Linked DNA regions of Homo sapiens. The protein of the gene in region 1 purifies or fractionates together with the protein of each later gene. This does not show direct contact. Each region holds a gene or a part of one and is shown in the gene's direction. Other genes may lie near its edges.

The links.
Region 2: the proteins of SLC2A3 (region 1) and RAB6B purify together in Homo sapiens (affinity purification with mass spectrometry; one large-scale study listed by BioGRID and IntAct). This does not show direct contact.
Region 3: the proteins of SLC2A3 (region 1) and TM9SF2 fractionate together in Homo sapiens (co-fractionation; one large-scale study listed by BioGRID). This does not show direct contact.
Region 4: the proteins of SLC2A3 (region 1) and ALDH1A1 purify together in Homo sapiens (affinity purification with mass spectrometry; one large-scale study listed by BioGRID and IntAct). This does not show direct contact.

What each region holds. Positions count from the first base shown.
Region 1 is NC_000012.12:7,928,755-7,934,056, reverse strand, and holds part of SLC2A3 (solute carrier family 2, facilitated glucose transporter member 3), read left to right. Parts: intron 1-154; coding exon 155-247; intron 248-909; coding exon 910-1,070; intron 1,071-2,571; coding exon 2,572-2,812; intron 2,813-3,414; coding exon 3,415-3,577; intron 3,578-4,185; coding exon 4,186-4,373; intron 4,374-5,302. UniProt on the Homo sapiens protein: Facilitative glucose transporter. Can also mediate the uptake of various other monosaccharides across the cell membrane. Mediates the uptake of glucose, 2-deoxyglucose, galactose, mannose, xylose and fucose, and probably also dehydroascorbate.
Region 2 is NC_000003.12:133,829,883-133,834,194, reverse strand, and holds part of RAB6B (ras-related protein Rab-6B), read left to right. Parts: intron 1-4,312. UniProt on the Homo sapiens protein: The small GTPases Rab are key regulators of intracellular membrane trafficking, from the formation of transport vesicles to their fusion with membranes. Rabs cycle between active GTP-bound and inactive GDP-bound states.
Region 3 is NC_000013.11:99,559,660-99,564,548, forward strand, and holds the end of TM9SF2 (transmembrane 9 superfamily member 2 precursor), read left to right. Parts: intron 1-3,031; coding exon 3,032-3,099; 3' UTR 3,100-4,389; downstream 4,390-4,889. UniProt on the Homo sapiens protein: In the intracellular compartments, may function as a channel or small molecule transporter.
Region 4 is NC_000009.12:72,943,054-72,947,365, reverse strand, and holds part of ALDH1A1 (aldehyde dehydrogenase 1A1), read left to right. Parts: intron 1-4,312. UniProt on the Homo sapiens protein: Cytosolic dehydrogenase that catalyzes the irreversible oxidation of a wide range of aldehydes to their corresponding carboxylic acid.

The sequences.
Region 1 (5,302 bases):
TTGTCTTCCCCATTAATTACCTAAATCTCATTGGATGTTCTTTTCATACCACTCATAACTCAAATTCTCCTAATACAGCTCCATAATTAATAAGAAACAGTCATCAATCACAAGTTTTAAGGACTATTCTCTCCTCTGTCTTCCCTCCCTCCAGGTCACCCCAGCTCTGATATTTGCCATCACAGTTGCTACAATCGGCTCTTTCCAATTTGGCTACAACACTGGGGTCATCAATGCTCCTGAGAAGGTGAGTGCCAGGCCACAATAATTAGAATTTAGAATAGGGAAGTTATTCCTTTAAGTAGGGTTTCAGGAATTCAGAATTTAAGGCCAGGCATGGTGGCATCTGCCTGGAGTCCCAGCTACTCCTGAGGCTGAGGCTTAAAGATCACTTGAGTCCAGGAGTTAAACACCATCCTGAGCAACACAGTTAGTGAGGGTCCCTCCCCAAACTAGGGGATTTTAAGACAAACTTTGTATCTATCCTGTCCAAGACTGAAGATGGAGACAATATTGGTGGGGAAAATTAGTGGGGTCATCTAATCGAAGCACAAAGCTCACTTACTCCCGGAACGCTGGGCGGTGCTGTTCTTCCTCCCACTCTTTCACCTCATAGTGATGCACATCCTGTATTATCCCTTAGGGGTTAGTTACAAAGAAGCTGGGTTCCCTTAGCAGAGGGCTGGGGTAGACTGTGAACATCGGTGCTGCCACCTACTGGGATTTTCAGGACAAATAGAATTACTATTCCAGCGAGAGTTAACATAAATTCCAATACGTTATCTGCCCCTTCCATTCCTGTCTATTTATTCCCTTGATTCTCTAGGAAGGAAATGATCCCTAATGTTTGTCTTTTGTTCTCATCCAACTGTAACAGTCTGTTCTTCCACCAACCCTTTTATTTTGCAGATCATAAAGGAATTTATCAATAAAACTTTGACGGACAAGGGAAATGCCCCACCCTCTGAGGTGCTGCTCACGTCTCTCTGGTCCTTGTCTGTGGCCATATTTTCCGTCGGGGGTATGATCGGCTCCTTTTCCGTCGGACTCTTCGTCAACCGCTTTGGCAGGTATTGACTAGAAACTGGGCAAGGAAGTGGGCTCTACCAGCCACATTGAGGACAAGTGTGGAGAGTTAGGGCAGGGAGGTGATGATGCCTTTGAATAAGAACACCTTGAATTCTAATCAAGGGAAACCTAGTCCAACTGGCCCCGAATATGACTGCCCTTGCTTGGAGCTCTACTACCCTGGAGAGCTCCCACCCAGCTGTGCAAGAGATGAACTGTGAGTGATTGGCCTTTGCAGTCCAGCTAGGGATAGTTCAGAATTATTCCCTAGTAAACTCAACTATGGGGTTTCTAGAAACATACTTAATTTACAAGGTCCGAAGTTGTTTACTTGTATTATAAATGTTTTTATTATTTTACCCAGGATTGGTAGGAATTATTTTTGTCTATGGCAAATGTGGATAATGACAAAAAAAAAGTCTTATTCTATAGAAGCTTAACAATATGTTTTAGAAGGTAGAATATATTTTCATTTATGACTAATGAAGGAACTGTTTTAATTTGCCAATTAGGCACGGTGTGGTGGCTCACCCCTGTAATCCTAGCACTTTGGGAAACCGAGGCAAGTGGATCAGCTGAGGTCAGGAGTTCGAGACCAGCCTGGCCAACATGGCAAAACCCTGTCTCTACCAAAAATACAAAAATTAGCCGGGCGTAGTGACAGGCACCTATAATTCCAGCTACTCCGGAGGCTGAGGCAGGAAAATCACTTGAACCTGCAGTGGGGGTGCAGAGGGTGCAGTAAGCTGAGATCTGGCCACTTCACACCAGCCTGGGCGAAAGAGCAAAACCCCGTCTCAAAAAAAAAAAAGCCGGTGCCGTGGCTCACGCCTGTAATCCCAGCACTTTGGGAGGCTGAGGCGGGCAGATAACAAGGTCAGGAGATCGAGACCATCCTGGCTAACACGGTGAAACCCTGTCCCTACTAAAAATACAAAAAATTAGCCGGGCGTGGTGGCATGCGCCTGCAATCCCAGCTGCTTGGAAGCTGAGGCAGGAGAATCTCTTGAGCCTGGGAGGCGCAGGTTGCAGTGAGCCGAGATCCTGCCACTGCACTCCAGCCTGGGTGACAGACCAAGACTCCGTCTCCAAAAAAAAAAAAAAAAAATGCCAATTAGATATTCTAGAAATGCAATTGGAATTCACATTTAAAAATCGGTAAAGCAACCTGTTTTACTTGATTATGTTGTTCTTTTGTTTTTTTACCCCCCAAGAAAGAGGGTCTTGCTCTGTCACCCGGGCTGGAGTGTAATGGCCCAATCATAGCTCACTACAGCTTCGACCTCCGACCTCAGCTCCCTGAGTGCCTGGGACTACAGGCGGGCACCATCACACCTGGTTCCCAACTAGAAATGTTCTGATAATAGAAAGTGAAAAACAAAAGTTAGATTAAAAAAAAAAGGGATGATATGAGCCTGGAGAAGAACAGAATAATGAGGACAGAGGAGAAGTTAGGAGCCTCTCACTTTGCTAATTCTACTTTGTCTTTGATTAACCTTACAGGCGCAATTCAATGCTGATTGTCAACCTGTTGGCTGTCACTGGTGGCTGCTTTATGGGACTGTGTAAAGTAGCTAAGTCGGTTGAAATGCTGATCCTGGGTCGCTTGGTTATTGGCCTCTTCTGCGGACTCTGCACAGGTTTTGTGCCCATGTACATTGGAGAGATCTCGCCTACTGCCCTGCGGGGTGCCTTTGGCACTCTCAACCAGCTGGGCATCGTTGTTGGAATTCTGGTGGCCCAGGTACTCTAGAACTTCTCATACTTAATGAGTGTTAGTTTCATGGGTCATTAAAAAAGTTAACATAGGTAAAGCACTGAAGAATATCTGGCACATGTTCAATTACATATGGAAGTTTTAGATAATAGATAGTAGCTGAAGAAGCAGGCTGAGGCCGGGCGCTGTGGCTCACGCCTGTAATCCCAGCACTTTGGGAGGCCGAGGTGGGCAGATCACGAGGTCAGCAGATGAAGACCAGCCTGGCTAACATGGTGAAACCCCATCTCTACTAAAAACACAAAAAATTGGTCGGGCGTGGTAGCGGGCACCTGTAGTCCCAGCTACTCCGGAGGCTGAGGCGGGAGAATGGCGTGAACCCGGTAGGCAGAGTTTGCAGTGAGCCGAGATTGTGCCACTGATCTCCAGCCTGGGTGACAGAGCAAGACTCCGTCTCAAAAAAAAAAAAAAAAAAAAAACCATGCTGAGTAGAGAAAGGAAAAGAAACACAATTTGTTTATTTTTTCACATGGTAAAAGAATGTATGATTTTCTGAACTTTTTGTGTTTTAATGAACTTGTGGCCTGTGAAGTATGGGGTTTATAGCATTATCTTTGTGTGGTTTCTAGATCTTTGGTCTGGAATTCATCCTTGGGTCTGAAGAGCTATGGCCGCTGCTACTGGGTTTTACCATCCTTCCTGCTATCCTACAAAGTGCAGCCCTTCCATTTTGCCCTGAAAGTCCCAGATTTTTGCTCATTAACAGAAAAGAAGAGGAGAATGCTAAGCAGAGTGAGTATCCTTCACACCTTACTACATGAATTATATGGTTGTGGTTTGTTTTAGGGATGATTGTACTGGACCTACTTTCTGTTACACTCTTTCCCTGCCTCTCAGAATCCAAGTGAGGAGGGTTCTGATTACTCCTGAGTAAAATTTTCAGCCCCTAAAGAATGAGGTGAAAAGGCGGGTTTAGGAATGGATGCTATCAGGCAGGGTGTGATGGCTCATGCCTGTAATCCAGCATTATAAGAGGCCGAGGCGGGTCACCTGAGGTCAGGAGTTCAAGACCTGCCTGAAACAACATGGAGAAACCCTGTCTCTACTAAAAATACAAAATTAGCCGGGCATGGGGGCGCATGCCTGTAATCCCAGCTACTTGGGAGGCTGAGGCAGGAGAATCGTGTGAACCCGGGAAGTGGAGGTTGCAGGGAGCTGAGATCATGCCATTGCACTCCAGCCTGGGCAACAAAAGTGAAACTCTGTCTCAAAAAAAAAAAAAGGAATGGATGCTACCCATCACCTCACCTCGTGCGGCCCTTTCCTGGCTGCCTTACAGGAAGAATGAATTTGGGGCAGCACATTCTCTTTTATCCTTTCCTCTTTCTTCTTTTCACCAGTCCTCCAGCGGTTGTGGGGCACCCAGGATGTATCCCAAGACATCCAGGAGATGAAAGATGAGAGTGCAAGGATGTCACAAGAAAAGCAAGTCACCGTGCTAGAGCTCTTTAGAGTGTCCAGCTACCGACAGCCCATCATCATTTCCATTGTGCTCCAGCTCTCTCAGCAGCTCTCTGGGATCAATGCTGTGAGTGTGATACTTTAGGGTCAAACGTGTCTTAAAGTATTTCACTTAAAATGCCGGGCATGGTGGCGGTGTGCCTCTGTAGTCCCAGCTACTCAGGAGGCTGAGGTAAGAGGATCACTTGAGCTCAGGAGTTTCAGGTTGCAGTGAGCTATAATTATGCCACTGCATTCCAGCCTGGGAGACAGAGTGAGACTGTGTCTCTGAAATTTAAAAAAAGGAAAAAAAAAAAAGACCCTGGAAGGACACTGGCAACTTCAGAGTGAACTGACTTTACCAGTCTGTTTTTACAACTAGTATAGCGAGCATGGTAGTTTAAAGAGGGCATGATAGATGATAGTTTAAAGAGGGCGGCACAACGGAAGCTAGCATTTGGCAGGTAGCCCTTGTATTCCATGCAAATATCAGCTTCCTGCATTTGACTGTGGATTGTAGGAAGAGAGTATTCCTGTGCCTTCTAGTCAATATGGATATTAAGAGCACCCTTGTCCCACCTTTTTAAATACTGATTCATCCCCTAAGGGTTTTCAGATAGTCTTTGATCAATGGGATTAAATTATTTTGTAACAAAGCATTTTGCAAAACTTACTATTTTGAGCATTTTGATGCTCAAAATAGTAAGTTGGTTCTTGGAACTTTTCTCCTACCTAGCACACCAGGATATTTGTATTTGAAGTGGCAGTGCTTCTTATGAGGGGTTAGAGGCTGTTATGTCAGAATCTATGAGGAGCCAAGTGTGGTGGCTGCTCATGCCTGTAGTCCCAGCTACTACTCGGGAGGCTGAGGTGGGAATATCACTTAGGCCCAGGAGTCAAGCCTGGGAAATATAGTATGACCCTGTCTTTAAAAAAAAAACTTGGGAGGAAATACACAGTAGTTAGAAAAAGCCTCCTAGGTGATTTTGATGAATCCCAGTCTCAAATTTCTTCATT
Region 2 (4,312 bases), on another chromosome or scaffold:
GGTTCAGTCTACTCAAGACAGCTCCCCCCTTCAGACAGATGCCCCCTCCTTGTCCCGCCCACCTTCTCTACCCAGCCCTGAACAGCTCCTGAGGCTCCCCACTGATCTGTGGGACCATTGCGCATCACCCACAAACCAGCCCCAACCTGAAGAGACACCTAGATGCTGAAACTGAGGTTCAGAGAGGTAGTCTGGTTTGCCCAGTGTCACACAGCATGTAAGTTACAGTTAGGATTCACACTCAGGCTTGCTTCCTCCATATCCAGCCCTATTCCATGTGGGACACTGTCCCTCTAAGGGCATTTGAGAGAATCAGATGAAAACTGTTTCAGCAGGGGAAGCCATTGCCCACACCTGGGCCTCCCCTGCATCTAGTCAGATGTCCCTGCCTGAGTAAGCCACCAGAAAACAAGCATGCAGATCCCTGGCTGGCATCCTTTACAGTGGACCTGTCCCTACACAGCAGCTCTCCAACATCCCCCACTGATCCTATAGGCCTCTGAGGGTAGACATCCCTGACAGATCAAAGAAGGGCCCTGGGAAGATGGAAGGGCACCTTTGGGCTGATGAGAATCAAAAGCAAAAGAAGCACACAGCTTAATGTTGGAGGCCTCATGGAGCTGCTGGGGCAGGGCGGGCAGGACACCAGGAGTCCCAGGGCTGCAGCAAGGGGGAGCCTGACACAGGCCTGGAGGGAAGCTAGGCCTCTCCAGCCTTGCTCAAGGAGCTCTCAGAGCAGACTCGAGACCCACCCCCCGGGGGGGTCAGGAAGGCTCACCAAGGAGCAGGTGCCCCAGCAGTCCCACGGTCTGTGTGTCACCAGAGGACAAGCAGTGGCCGAGAGGAGGGGGTTTGAGGAGTATCTCCTGGTTGGTCAGTTATGAGACTCCAATCACAGATAAGGAAACTGAGGCTCAGAAACTTAAACTAGGGCACCCCACGGCTCTCAGTAGCAGAGACAGGCTCCAGAGCTCAGGAGAGAGCCCCTGTGGAATCACCTGTCACATGGGACTCCTTTGAGGTTCCAGGAACATACAGAAGCCAACCTGAAGGGCAAACATAGGAGCAGGAACAAGGGAGAGGGGCAGACAAGGTGCAGGCGATCTCCGCTGTGCCTGCCAGCAAGGGGAAGGGTTGCACTGCCCGCTCTCCATCCCACCAGCTCCCAAGGTGTGGCACACTGGCCGGGGTGAGTGGTGATCGTTTCATTCACATTCTCCCAGAGTCGCGCTGTTGAGGGCTCCAGGCTGGGCCCACAGTCAGGTCAGACTGGGCTGAGTGCAGGGTGACAGTGAGCTCGTCATCGTCCTGGTATGCCTAGCGTTTCATCCAGCTACCACTGACCTTTGGGCCCCTTGGGAGAAAGGATACATGGCAGGTTGCAAACAGACTGCACAGGGTGTTGTGACCTGTGTCCCTTTTTCTAGCTAAGGGGTCCCCTCATCTGGGTAGATGTACCCCCATCCTTTCACTTCTGCCCAGGAGCCAGCTTGCTGGGCCTCTCACGAGGCAGGTGCTAGAGCGGCCACCAGAGGTCCCAGAGGGACCAGGCAGAGGCAGCCGTCATTCTGCTTCTTTCGGGATGGGGTGTTGGCATTTCTGCTTACTCACAGTCCAAATCCAGGTGTTTTGAAGGTGTGTGCTTTGGGGTCATGTTCATAATTGTGTTCCACATTGAGAGCAGCCACACAGAAGCACTGCTTTGTGGCGCTGTATAAACTGTTCACACCTGGCCTCACTTGCTCAGCTCAGGACTTGGTGAATGTGTGGCATGAGGTTTCCGTCTGCTGCTTGCAGGTCTAGATGGGGGGCTGCTGCACCTCTTCTTCACGTTCGAGACAGGAGGACCCCTCAGGGCCGCTCTGGCCAATACTTCTGCCCAGCAGCACCCTCCACTGGTCTGCTCTCAACAAAGTAGGAGCCAAGGGGCCACCAAATGGTAGAGCCATAAGCCCCTTACTGGTTCTACATACACAACCCCCCAACCCCCACTTTCTACCCAAATACAGTATGCGCCCATCACATGGGCCCCAGACTGTTTCTGAACAAGGCTGGCTTACGCAAAGAAAGAGCAGTAGTGTGGGCACTTCATGAAGTGGCTCTAAGCAGGTGAGGACAGTGACGCCGCAAACCAGATAGAGCATGCTCAAGGCCTCCCAGCTCCTTAATTCAGAGCTGGAACCACATCCAAATGACTGGATTCCACAGCCCTGTTGCACTCTCTGATGGGGCTGTGGTGTGCTTTGACATTCCAGATACAGACAGGATTGTGCTGCAGTAGAGTCAGAGGCACTGGGATTGGGGAAGCATATCCAGCAGTAGGGGGTAAGTTTGTAACAGGCTGTCTGGGCCCACCCATCACTTCCAGGAACCAGGGAGAAGGGACATTGGGCACTGAATGTGGCCCGTGATGGGCCACACTTGACCCAGAGGGAAGAGGCGGGTGTGCTCTGGCCATGCCTGCCGGAAAGGCACATATCTAACCTCTTGAGGCTTGTGAGAAACCGTGAGTTTCCCCTTCTGGGACATTATTTAGACATGGGTCCAGTCATTCTTCCCTGTCCTCTCAATCAGCGGGCAGCCCCTGAGCACTGCATTTCAGCAGCATGTGGCGTAACAAGGAAGGAGGTGTCATTAAATGAGAGCCTTTGGGAAGGCTCCTAGCGGAAGAGCTGGGCCTGTGCTCTCCAATTCTGCAGCCACATGTGGGTGTTCCGACTTAAATTAGTTAAAATTCAGTTGAATTAAAAGTTCATTTCCTCACTTGCACTAGCATCCTTGCAAGTGCCCAGTTGCCCATGTTGCTAATGGTGACATCTTGGACAGTGCAGATATAGAATATTTCCATCACTGGAGAAAGTTCTTTGGACAGTGCTGTTCTAGAAGTATCAGTAGAATTGGTTTCCCGGATGTCTGTGCATTGGGACTCTCCAAAGAACTTGTTAAAAACACACATCTGGGGCCCATCCCCACATCTACCAAGGTAGGACCCAGTGAGACGTATTTTTAACAAACATCCCAGAAAATTTTGATGCAATCCATTTGAGAACTATTGCTGTGCAGTGTACAAAAGTATTGTGATCAAATTGCGCATGAGATTGTTTTAGTGGTCGTAGGTGACTTCAATACTGGGCAGAACGTAATGCTGTAACAGTGGCCAACCTTCAAGCTAGACCACTAGTTCTCAACCAGGACTGATAGCCCTTCCCTCCCCTCCCCACAGGGGACATTTGGCAATGTCTTCAGACGTTTTGGCTCACCATAAATTGGGGGAGGGGGAATGGGGTTTAACTGGCATCTCATAGATAGTGGTCAGGGATGCTTCTGAACATCCTCCGTGCACAGGACGCCCTCATAACAAGGAATTGTCTGGCCCAAAATGTCAGTAGTGTTGAGTTTGAGAAGCCCATCCACAAGGGGCTTAGCACAGCCAGGTCAGTGAAAGTAGAAGGCTGGGGTCAAGATAGCCTTGGGTTTGTACCTGGGCACCTCAGCTTCCCAGCTGGAAGGTGGCTCTTTTACTCCCCACTGCACGAGGTCTAATGTGGAAGTGAGGTAGCTCTCAGCAGGAGAGGCCACTAATGCGTGCACCCTGGCCCAAGGAATGAGGACATTTTTACAGGTGGAGATGGGGAGGAAGGCTGGGTGTGGGGGAGGGAGCATCACTTCTAGAAGGAAAGAACAGCATGAACAAAGGAAAGAAGGAAAGCATAGGACGTGTTTAAAGCAGGGAAAATCTGGTTGGTGGAGCCTTGGTGTGTGATTGAGGGAAGGGGATAAGCTAGCGTCAACAGGTGCTTGGGGTGACCCTAAATGGGGAGGCCTTAAATGCCAGAGTGAGAAATCCGTGGACACTTTGTTTCTGTAGCAGAGTGTGACATGATTGTCACCAGAGCTGGCTTTGGGAAGCCACCATGCTGAGAGAGAGCTGGCTGGGCTCAGAGGGGCACTCAGAGAAGACCAGGAGACCTCAAGGAGGCCTGTGCCCAGGCCAGCAATACAGAACAGGACTGCACTGCCGGCATGGGCCATAGAACTGCAGCTGGCAGAGAGAAACAGCAGGGCATTCCTGGCAGTGGGTTTACCAAAAATGATGGGCAGTAGAGAAGCAGGCTGCTTGACTAGGGTAGAGAGAACAAAAGGTGGGCTGCAGTGGGCAGTGGGAAGGAAGGCACTGGCTTAGTATCTATTTACTCATTTATAGGCTGCCATGGTATAAGATACATATACATACACACAAGATAAAGTTGTATGTGTATGTGTGTACACACACACATGGGGAAAATAAAGGTAGGAAAAGCAAAGAAAAGTC
Region 3 (4,889 bases), on another chromosome or scaffold:
CACAACTAGGCATAGTTGGGTCTGCCCACCTGTGAGTTGCATAAAGATGATGAAACAGAAGCTGGGGAAGAAGGCTAAACAGGGTCATAATTGTGGTAAAGGTTCAGGGACGCATGGGCCAGTACAGCTCATGGTTTTCGTCTGTTAACCTCTTAAAGGTACACACAGTCCTTTTTTTTTTTTTTGCCACTTCAGAAATAGGGTAGAAGCTATAGTGACTTAAGTTTAGGAGTAAGTAGAAATTGAGGAGGTGAAGTCAAGATGAGGCTGAGAGTAGGTAGGGGATATCAAGGAAAGATAATGGGACATTCCTTAATCTAGAAGCTTTTATCTCCACTTTAAAATTCAAGCATTGAACAGGATATAGTGTGTATTTTATTGGTATTTATTTTATATATGTATATATCTTCTCTATCCAACTAGATGAAAGTTTTCGGTATCTCACAGCCCCGGGTGCTTGGTAAACATTTGTCGCGTGAGTGACTGAACTTAGGAATTATAGCACCTTCCTTTGTCACAAGTAACGCTGCCCGAAGCGTGCATCTAAAATGTTAGCTCCTCACGCATGTCATGGAAGAAAATGCAGGAGCCAAAAAGAAAAAAGAACAAGTTTTTTTCCTCCAATTAAAACTGTTCTACTTTTCACTCATCTGTTAGCATTTCAGAGCCTGGAGTCGGGTTTTGAAGGGCCTCTGCTGCTGTCTCAGGCTTAAGGCACTTCCATCGATTCTGTATTCCAGGTCATTGATCAGACATGGTGGGGTGCGTGTCTTGGTGCTACGTGATAAATTTAGGTCCAGAGCTGTAAATTTTAATAAATCATCTATAAAACAGCAGTAGCCAGTGAAACAAGGAATGACTGTTTTTGTGCCCTGTGTGTCCATAAATGCATATACAGAATAATTTATTCCTAGCCTACACACAAAAAATAACGATCATTGTGAATATCTGTTGTTTTTCCAGACATATGATACAGAAAATGATAGCTTAACCATCACCTAAATTTTATTTATTTTTATTTATTTTATTTTTATTTTTTTGAGACGGAGTCTCACTCTTTTGCCCAGGCTGGAGTGCAGTGGCGCGATCTCAGCTCACTGCAAACTCTGCCTCCCAGGTTCACGCCATTCTCCTGCCTCAGCCTCCCGAGTAGCTGGGACTACAGGCGCCCGCCACTGCGCCCGGCTAATTTTTTTTATTTTTAGTAGAGATGGGGTTTCACCATGTTAGCCAGGATGGTCTCGAACCCCTGACCTCAGACGATCTGCCCGCCTTGGCCTCCCGAAGTGCTCGGATTGGGCGTGAGCCACTGCGCCCAGCTGATTTTGTTTTTTAAAGTGTTATATTTTCATTCATTCAGAGTTGAATTTTGTAATCTGAATTATGGAGTCATATCAAATGGAACCAACCAGTTAAACCAGTAACTTATAGTGTATTTCACTTTCTTCAATTGTATTTTTCCTTTAGTGAACAGGTGGAAGCATTCTGGATAAGGGAGTAGTGAGCCCTTTAAATGCCTTACCTTTCTCTAAAATAGGGTATGGTCTGTATTTGCTTCAGTACTCCAGAGCAATGCCATTTTATTGTATTTAAGTCAATCCATTTTACAAAACAGAAGTAATTATTCTGTCACAAAAGGAAAGACGCCACTTTTAGTACGTACATATATTCCATATTAAGAACAAAATTAAGTAACTAAACTTAAGTTTCTTAGAGTTGCCTGGATAGTGATTAAATGTTCTTCTCATCTTAAAATATTGTTTGTCATCTTGAAATTTATGCAAGTAAGTACAAAGTTATATAAATATACTGAGTTTTCATTATTGCTTTTCTGAAATTAACCCCAGCCCTAGCCTGAATAATTATCCTTTTGACTATGCAAAAGGTATATTTGTATGTCCTCCAAAACACACATTGTGCTTTGCATATAGTAGGGCCTCAATACATGTACAATGTAAGGATGGATATAATGATGTTTGTAATTTCCCACGGTAATGTCCCATGTATAGTCTCTTGATTTAGAAAATCTCCTTTAATATTTTCTCAGAGTACTGCATTTAAAACAATGGTGAAAACTATTGGGACTTTAAATGTAAAATTTATACAAGGATTATTTATAGTCCCTTATGTGTGCATGTGCAAGGAGTACTATGCTTGAAGTCAGAAAAAACGCATTTGATTTCTGGCCACAAGTACCATCCATGTGACCATGAGACAGTCACTTAACCCCTTTGAACCTCATTTTTGTCTCATTGAAAGAGTGTCCCCATCTAGCATTCAAATTCTTTGGAATCTAGACTGATACCTGAAAATCAAGCCATACATTGTTTTCATGAATTATCTCATTTACTCTACATAATAGTCTATGGAGGCAATGAGGACAGATAAATTTCTCCCTAGTTAATATGATAAATGGGCTTGGAGATGTCAGTGGACTTGCCCAAGGATGACACACACAGTTTGTGACAGAGCTGCTCTGTTCTCTGCTACCATGCTGTCCCTCATTTTCAGCTAGGATGCATTTTTGTTACTATCTAATCATGTCACTTTTAACATTTTGTAAAAACTTACTGAGTTATTTTATTATAATTCTTTGAAGACTGATAACTTCCAATAACTGTACTTAGAAAATATCCCCATTTAATCATTATTTGAACCTGTTTTAATGTATTCATCTCATACCTTAAAAAATTCTAGTAGCGTTTTCCATTTTGTTGTAAAATATTCTTAAATAGGAAAGGACAGTTGACATCCTTCAGTCTTTTCTATGTAGTAAGGAAAATAATGTGTATTGTAGAAAGCTTAGGTAATCTTATAGTAGAAAAAAGTTCTACCAATTTTTGTAAGAAACTTGATTTGAGGTGGTCGTATATTTTTCAGACGTGCTCATAGATCTGTAGTATATTCCCGGTGGGTAATAGTTTATAGTTTTGCGACTTTTTTAAGGAACCAGTCATTGTAAGTCTGTATTTTTGTGTAAAGTATGAAACTTCCTTTGAAAAGGGGTTTATTTTTATTTTTTCTCTTATAGGAACAATTGGCTTCTTTGCATGCTTTTGGTTTGTTACCAAAATATACAGTGTGGTGAAGGTTGACTGAAGAAGTCCAGTGTGTCCAGTTAAAACAGAAATAAATTAAACTCTTCATCAACAAAGACCTGTTTTTGTGACTGCCTTGAGTTTTATCAGAATTATTGGCCTAGTAATCCTTCAGAAACACCGTAATTCTAAATAAACCTCTTCCCATACACCTTTCCCCCATAAGATGTGTCTTCAACACTATAAAGCATTTGTATTGTGATTTGATTAAGTATATATTTGGTTGTTCTCAATGAAGAGCAAATTTAAATATTATGTGCATTTGTAAATACAGTAGCTATAAAATTTTCCATACTTCTAATGGCAGAATAGAGGAGGCCATATTAAATAATACTGATGAAAGGCAGGACACTGCATTGTAAATAGGATTTTCTAGGCTCGGTAGGCAGAAAGAATTATTTTTCTTTGAAGGAAATAACTTTTTATCATGGTAATTTTGAAGGATGATTCCTATGATGTGTTCACCAGGGGAATGTGGCTTTTAAAGAAAATCTTCTATTGGTTGTAACTGTTCATATCTTCTTACTTTTCTGTGTTGACTTCATTATTCCCATGGTATTGGCCTTTTAAACTATGTGCCTCTGAGTCTTTCAATTTATAAATTTGTTATCTTAATAAATATTATAAAAATGTCTTCATTGCATCATTACCTATTATATATTCAAGGAGGTTCTGTAAATACAGATCTATTTACCAAGGTGTTTTGAAATGATTTATACTATTTTATCAGATTTTACTGGATTTTGTTAATGTAACACTTTCTGAGTTTTGATCTGAATGGAATTTCACTGTGTAAGGCATTGTCTAAAATGTTCACTGTGAGGCAGTAGAGGAGGTTGAAGTCATGCATATCTAGACAGATGAATTATCTGCAAGTACTTAAGGTGGAGCCTTACTACATTGTCATTAAGGAGTTTCTATTTTTGACTTGTTTTTCAAAATACAGTGTTTTAAGTCAGGTTTTATTACCTGGACATTAGCAATCACTAGCAAGTCTTCATCTTTATGATTTCATTGTTTTAATTTAGATTTCACAAACAGTTTTACTTCTAAGAGTTAAGAAATGCACTGTCTTTCACATTCATCTGACTAATTGAAATCCATTTATGTAGAATATAGGAATGGGGGGTGATTCTGAAGTATCGGTCTGCTTGTATCTGTGAGCATATTCATTTGTATTTTAGGGTCTCTCTGCTTGCTGCTTAGGAGAGCAAATCAGATACTGTCATTAAACTTACAACTAAAATTACTAGCTGTCACTTATATGATATTGCTGGGTTCTTACTGAATAATTTTTTTTTTTTTTTGAGACAGAGTTTCCTTCTTGTTGCCCAGGCTGGAGTGCAATGGCGAGATCTCGGCTCACCACAACCTCCGCCTCCCAGGTTCAAGCAATTCTCCTGCCTCAGCCTCCTGAGTAGCTGGGATTACAGGCATGTGCCACCACGCCCGGCTAATTTTGTATTTTTAGTAGAGACGGCATTTCTCCATGTTGGTCACACTGGTTTCAAACTCCTGACCTCAGGTGATCTGCCCGCCTCGGCCTCCCAAAGTGCTGGGATTACAGGTGTGAGCCACTGCGCCCAGCCTTACTGAATAATTTTATGTCACTGTCCTTTTTTAAAAAAACGGACCTGTTGGTTTTGAAGAGTAAAGGAGGAGCTCTGTTCATTTTTAACATGGAATATTTAAGATAGAAGAGTTTCTTTCAGTTTTATGTATCTCTTGTATTTATTTTTTATGGGTAGAGTTGTCCCTTAGTATTTATGGGAGATTGGTTCCAGAACCCTT
Region 4 (4,312 bases), on another chromosome or scaffold:
TAACTTCAATGCAGCAACCACCTTCCAGTTACTTCACAATAGAGCTTCCAGTTTCTTCCAGAAACTAGCACTCAGCCACATCAGAAACTTTCCTTTCAGAAAGTGCCAGAGCTAAGCAGAAACATGATGATGGCTACAAACCAGTGACAGAACCAATCATTGATTTTAATAGTGGGAGATAATCATTTACTAATATTTAGAATGCTCATCTCTGAGGACTGCTGTCTTGGCAAGTTGTTTTGTTTTCTGGCACCTGCCTGACTGTAAGAAAATGGAATTAACAATTCTAAAGTAAAGAACACATGTCCTAAGAGAGGGTATTGTCCCCATTTCATAAGGGCTCTCAGTACAACTCTTTATATAACTTTGTAACAGGGACTTTAACCTATTGAATTTGTCACTACATACTTGCCAGAATGAGGGAAACACTCTTAGAGAATATGAAAAATAACTCATTTGAAGACCAACCCAAAGTAAAGGTAATGACTCTGAAATGGCATGGATAATCTATAGGATGATATGTTGCAAATCAGCATAAAATAAATCTCACAGAAATACAGACATCAAACAGAGATATCTGAAAATAGCAATTATCTGGCTTGGGATGGTGGTGTGGGGGGGTGCACTTTGGTTTGATTTATCATGATGCTATTATAACTATAGCCAGGGGATATATTATATGTTTACAAAGTGTAAGTGACAACATAGAACCATGTTCAAAAGAATTTGAGCAAGGATTGCTTCACAAACCCTTACTTAGAATCCAATAAATCAGAAAAGTAAATCTGTGTAATACTGGTTTTCCTGACGCTGACATGTTTTGGGTGTATAGATGTATATAGCAAAAGTATCCACAAACTTAGAAGCATTGCTTGAGAAGGATGTGAAGTGTTGCTAATATTGGGTTTTCTGATATTATCTCTACCTGATTCATTGTAACGTTTGACTTACTAATGGAAATTTGTTCACTGGGGAATTTGCACAAATCTCACATCTCTAAAAACTTTGCCTGAACCGTTCCCTCCCCCAACCCTGGTCCCATTTCCACTGACTATTTCCACTGCTCTATCGATACTTTTTTAGATGTCAAAGGAATACAAATAACTACTGAATTATGCTTTATATTTGGCATTCTTTTAGAAGGAAGAGGGCTTACATGCGAGCAATTCTATTACTAGGTCTTGATACTGCTAAAAATGGGCAGAACTTTCTATCGCTTCTACATCTTAACTCTGATACAGAAAATATATGATGTACAGAAGTTGCTGACAAGTTTTGTTATCATCTCTAGGACACAGTGATGGAGTGGCTCAAAACAAATGCTGTGGCATCTTTTCTCTTTCCCTGACACAATTGAAAAGGCTGATGGGGTTTTGCAAACAACAAGAAAAAAGAGTATATACTCACGTTACTAAAGTCAGACTATCATTTAAAACAAATGAAAGGAAAATTTTATTTCTCCTATTTTTTGTTTTCGTCATTCTGTCATTTTGTTTTCATTCATTTGATGACAGTTAAAAATTTTCTTTCCCTTTGTTATTTCCTCCTTAATTTCCTTTTACATTTTCTAACTTTGAGTCTCAACATTTTGCTTTCCTGCCTCAGGGTTAGGGTGCAAAGCAGTTGCCAGAGATCCAGCTTTGATTCTTTTAAATGTTTAACACCCCACCTGACTTTTGTTCAGTCTCTCCTCCTCATTATTCATCTCCGATCTCATACTCCCTGACTCCCAGCGGCCTTTAGTACTTTGGTAGGTTCCTAAGCTGAGAAAAGGTTGACACATTTACAGCACACACCAGTCTCCACAGGTTCACACCACCACCCATGCAGCCTATGCTGTGACTCAGTTCTCAAGTTTGAAAATTCACATGGATGACATTAAATGGGGACTCTCATCACCCTCCCTCTCGTTTGGAAAATCTTAAAAGAAATTCTTTGTGCATTGAAAATGTGATCTCTTAAAATCTCTCTCCCACCAAGAAAGTATTGCCTTCCTTTACAGACTCTAGGGCTGCTGGCCCAGTTGCTGCCCTGCCGAGATAATATTAATTTAAGGCACTCTGAGTATCTTTTGCAAGGAGTCAGGGGCTCCCCACTTTAGCCCACAGACTCCAAAATCTCATATCAGCAGATAAGGCAAATAGGGCTTTATTTTGCCACTAGTCAAAACTAGCTTTATCCAAGCCAGAAATATTTTGAGAAAATTATGCTTATTTATTTAGAACTGTAGATTTATACACAATACATTAAGACATAATAACTTTTACTCTGGAAAGGCAATTTTTTTCACAATTATGACTAATTCTTGGACACCAGTTGAATCCAGGAAATGGCTACTTGTTTATCAAAGGTAAAATGATGCATTTCTTAAAATGTGGCATATCTAAAATCTGAAGTGTAAAAATCCATTTCTAAGTTGCCTCAACATTTCTATTGATTGCTTCCCCATATAGAAAGTACTTGAAGTCCAAGAGTATGCATAGGCATTTATAATTTCCAATCAATATTTCAAACAGAAGGTTGATGTCTACTTTACATATATATTATTCAAAAGTCACCTAAGTCCAAAATTCATAATTAGAATTGAGTTAATATATAATGGTTACATAGAACCCAAGAATATTTTACTTTTATAGTATCATCTCTTTTCCTCTAAGCTGGCTAAAGGCAAAAAACAAATGGAAAATAATATTGTCACCATTATAGAACATTAAACAAGCCTAATGTAAATTTTATAATTATTATAACAAACATTCATTAGCCTAGACTTCTCCATATAACCATTAATATAACTATAGGAACAGTGATTATACAAAAACGTTTGGTCACACAGTTAGCTGGAAGGCAAATGCCCAATGTAAAGCTCCTATAATTAAAACAGAAAAAAAATGTATTTGAGGTAGGCCCTATGAATAAATTATCTGTAGCTAAGGGGAAGAAAAAGACTGGGCAATACCTGGCCTTCTAACCATCTAGGTCATCACATTACCTATGCCAAATTCCCTTTTCATGCTGAAACGCCTCTGTTTGTGGGAGAATGGCATAATTCATAATTTGTAGACTGCACTGTTACATCACTCTCCTTCAAAAGCCTGTGACCTTATGATAGGATTATGAAATTAGTCTCAAGGCTAATTTCTTGGACTCTGGTTGGTCTACTTCAAATCTACTTGGGATACTTTAAAATCAGTATTCCTAAACATCCATTTGATCTGGTCTCTCTCCCTTTTTATATCCAGAATAGAGCCTAAACTTCTTTCTCTGGGGATCAGGATCTGCCACAAATTGACTTTATTTTCAATGTCAGGCCTTATCTGTGACTTATGTCCACTGCAACTCCATTCTGTTGGGAGCTGCTCTGTTTACTGTGTTACAAACCTCCAAAGATTTGTCCCTCCCTTTACTCTTTTTTTTTCCTTCTTTCCACCAATCCAGTTCCATCCTTCAAAGAAGCATTCTTTCAGCCTATGCCCCTCTACACCATTTATTGACAACACCGCTGCTTTGGCCATTTTGCTCCACAGTCTTTAATTCTGTACTGGCGGCTCTTGATATGAATACATTCTCCTCTTAGATTATAAGCCCCTGAGAGCAGAGGCCATGGCTAACTCATCTCTCATTTTTCCACAATAACTGCCAGACTATGTCTCAAGTATTTACTCATTATTGGACAAACACTTTTCTGATAAAGCAAAAGTTACTAATCATGATTATATAAATGTCAACACAAGTTCAAACACAAGTTGGGCTCACAGTGTCCTCCTGTCTTAAAGGTTAAAACTGAATAATGCAGAACAGTGCTGGTAATTTGGGGTCCTCTACAGCTGATCTCTTCAGTTGCCTGCAGGCTGCCAGATAAACATGTGTTATTACTTCAGGTTAATGCTCATTTACAAAACATTCACTGGCTTTAATCTAAAGTGGCAGTTTTATGTACAGCTTAGATGCAAATTCTGATCATGGAACTAGATGGTACATACATACTGTAATAATTCTTTTACAAAAAAGTGTGTAAAGAGAGTAAAATAAGCTATAATATATTGAGAGCATATTATTGAGAACTTGAAACCACAGATTATCACAGACCTAAGGATAAGAGGACTCGGGCGAGAACTAGAAAGTCCGACCACAGGCCTAGCAAAATGTAATTGATTCTGTATGTTGTTTTATTTTATTTTTAATGAAATTACATTGTAGAAGGGTGAAATTCTGGATCTCTGCCAAAATGAAATCTGTGTTCCCTTAGTTTACAGGTACAAAATCTAAGGTGGTAATACAATCTTTAGGCAGAGAGAAGGCAGAATTCCCAAGT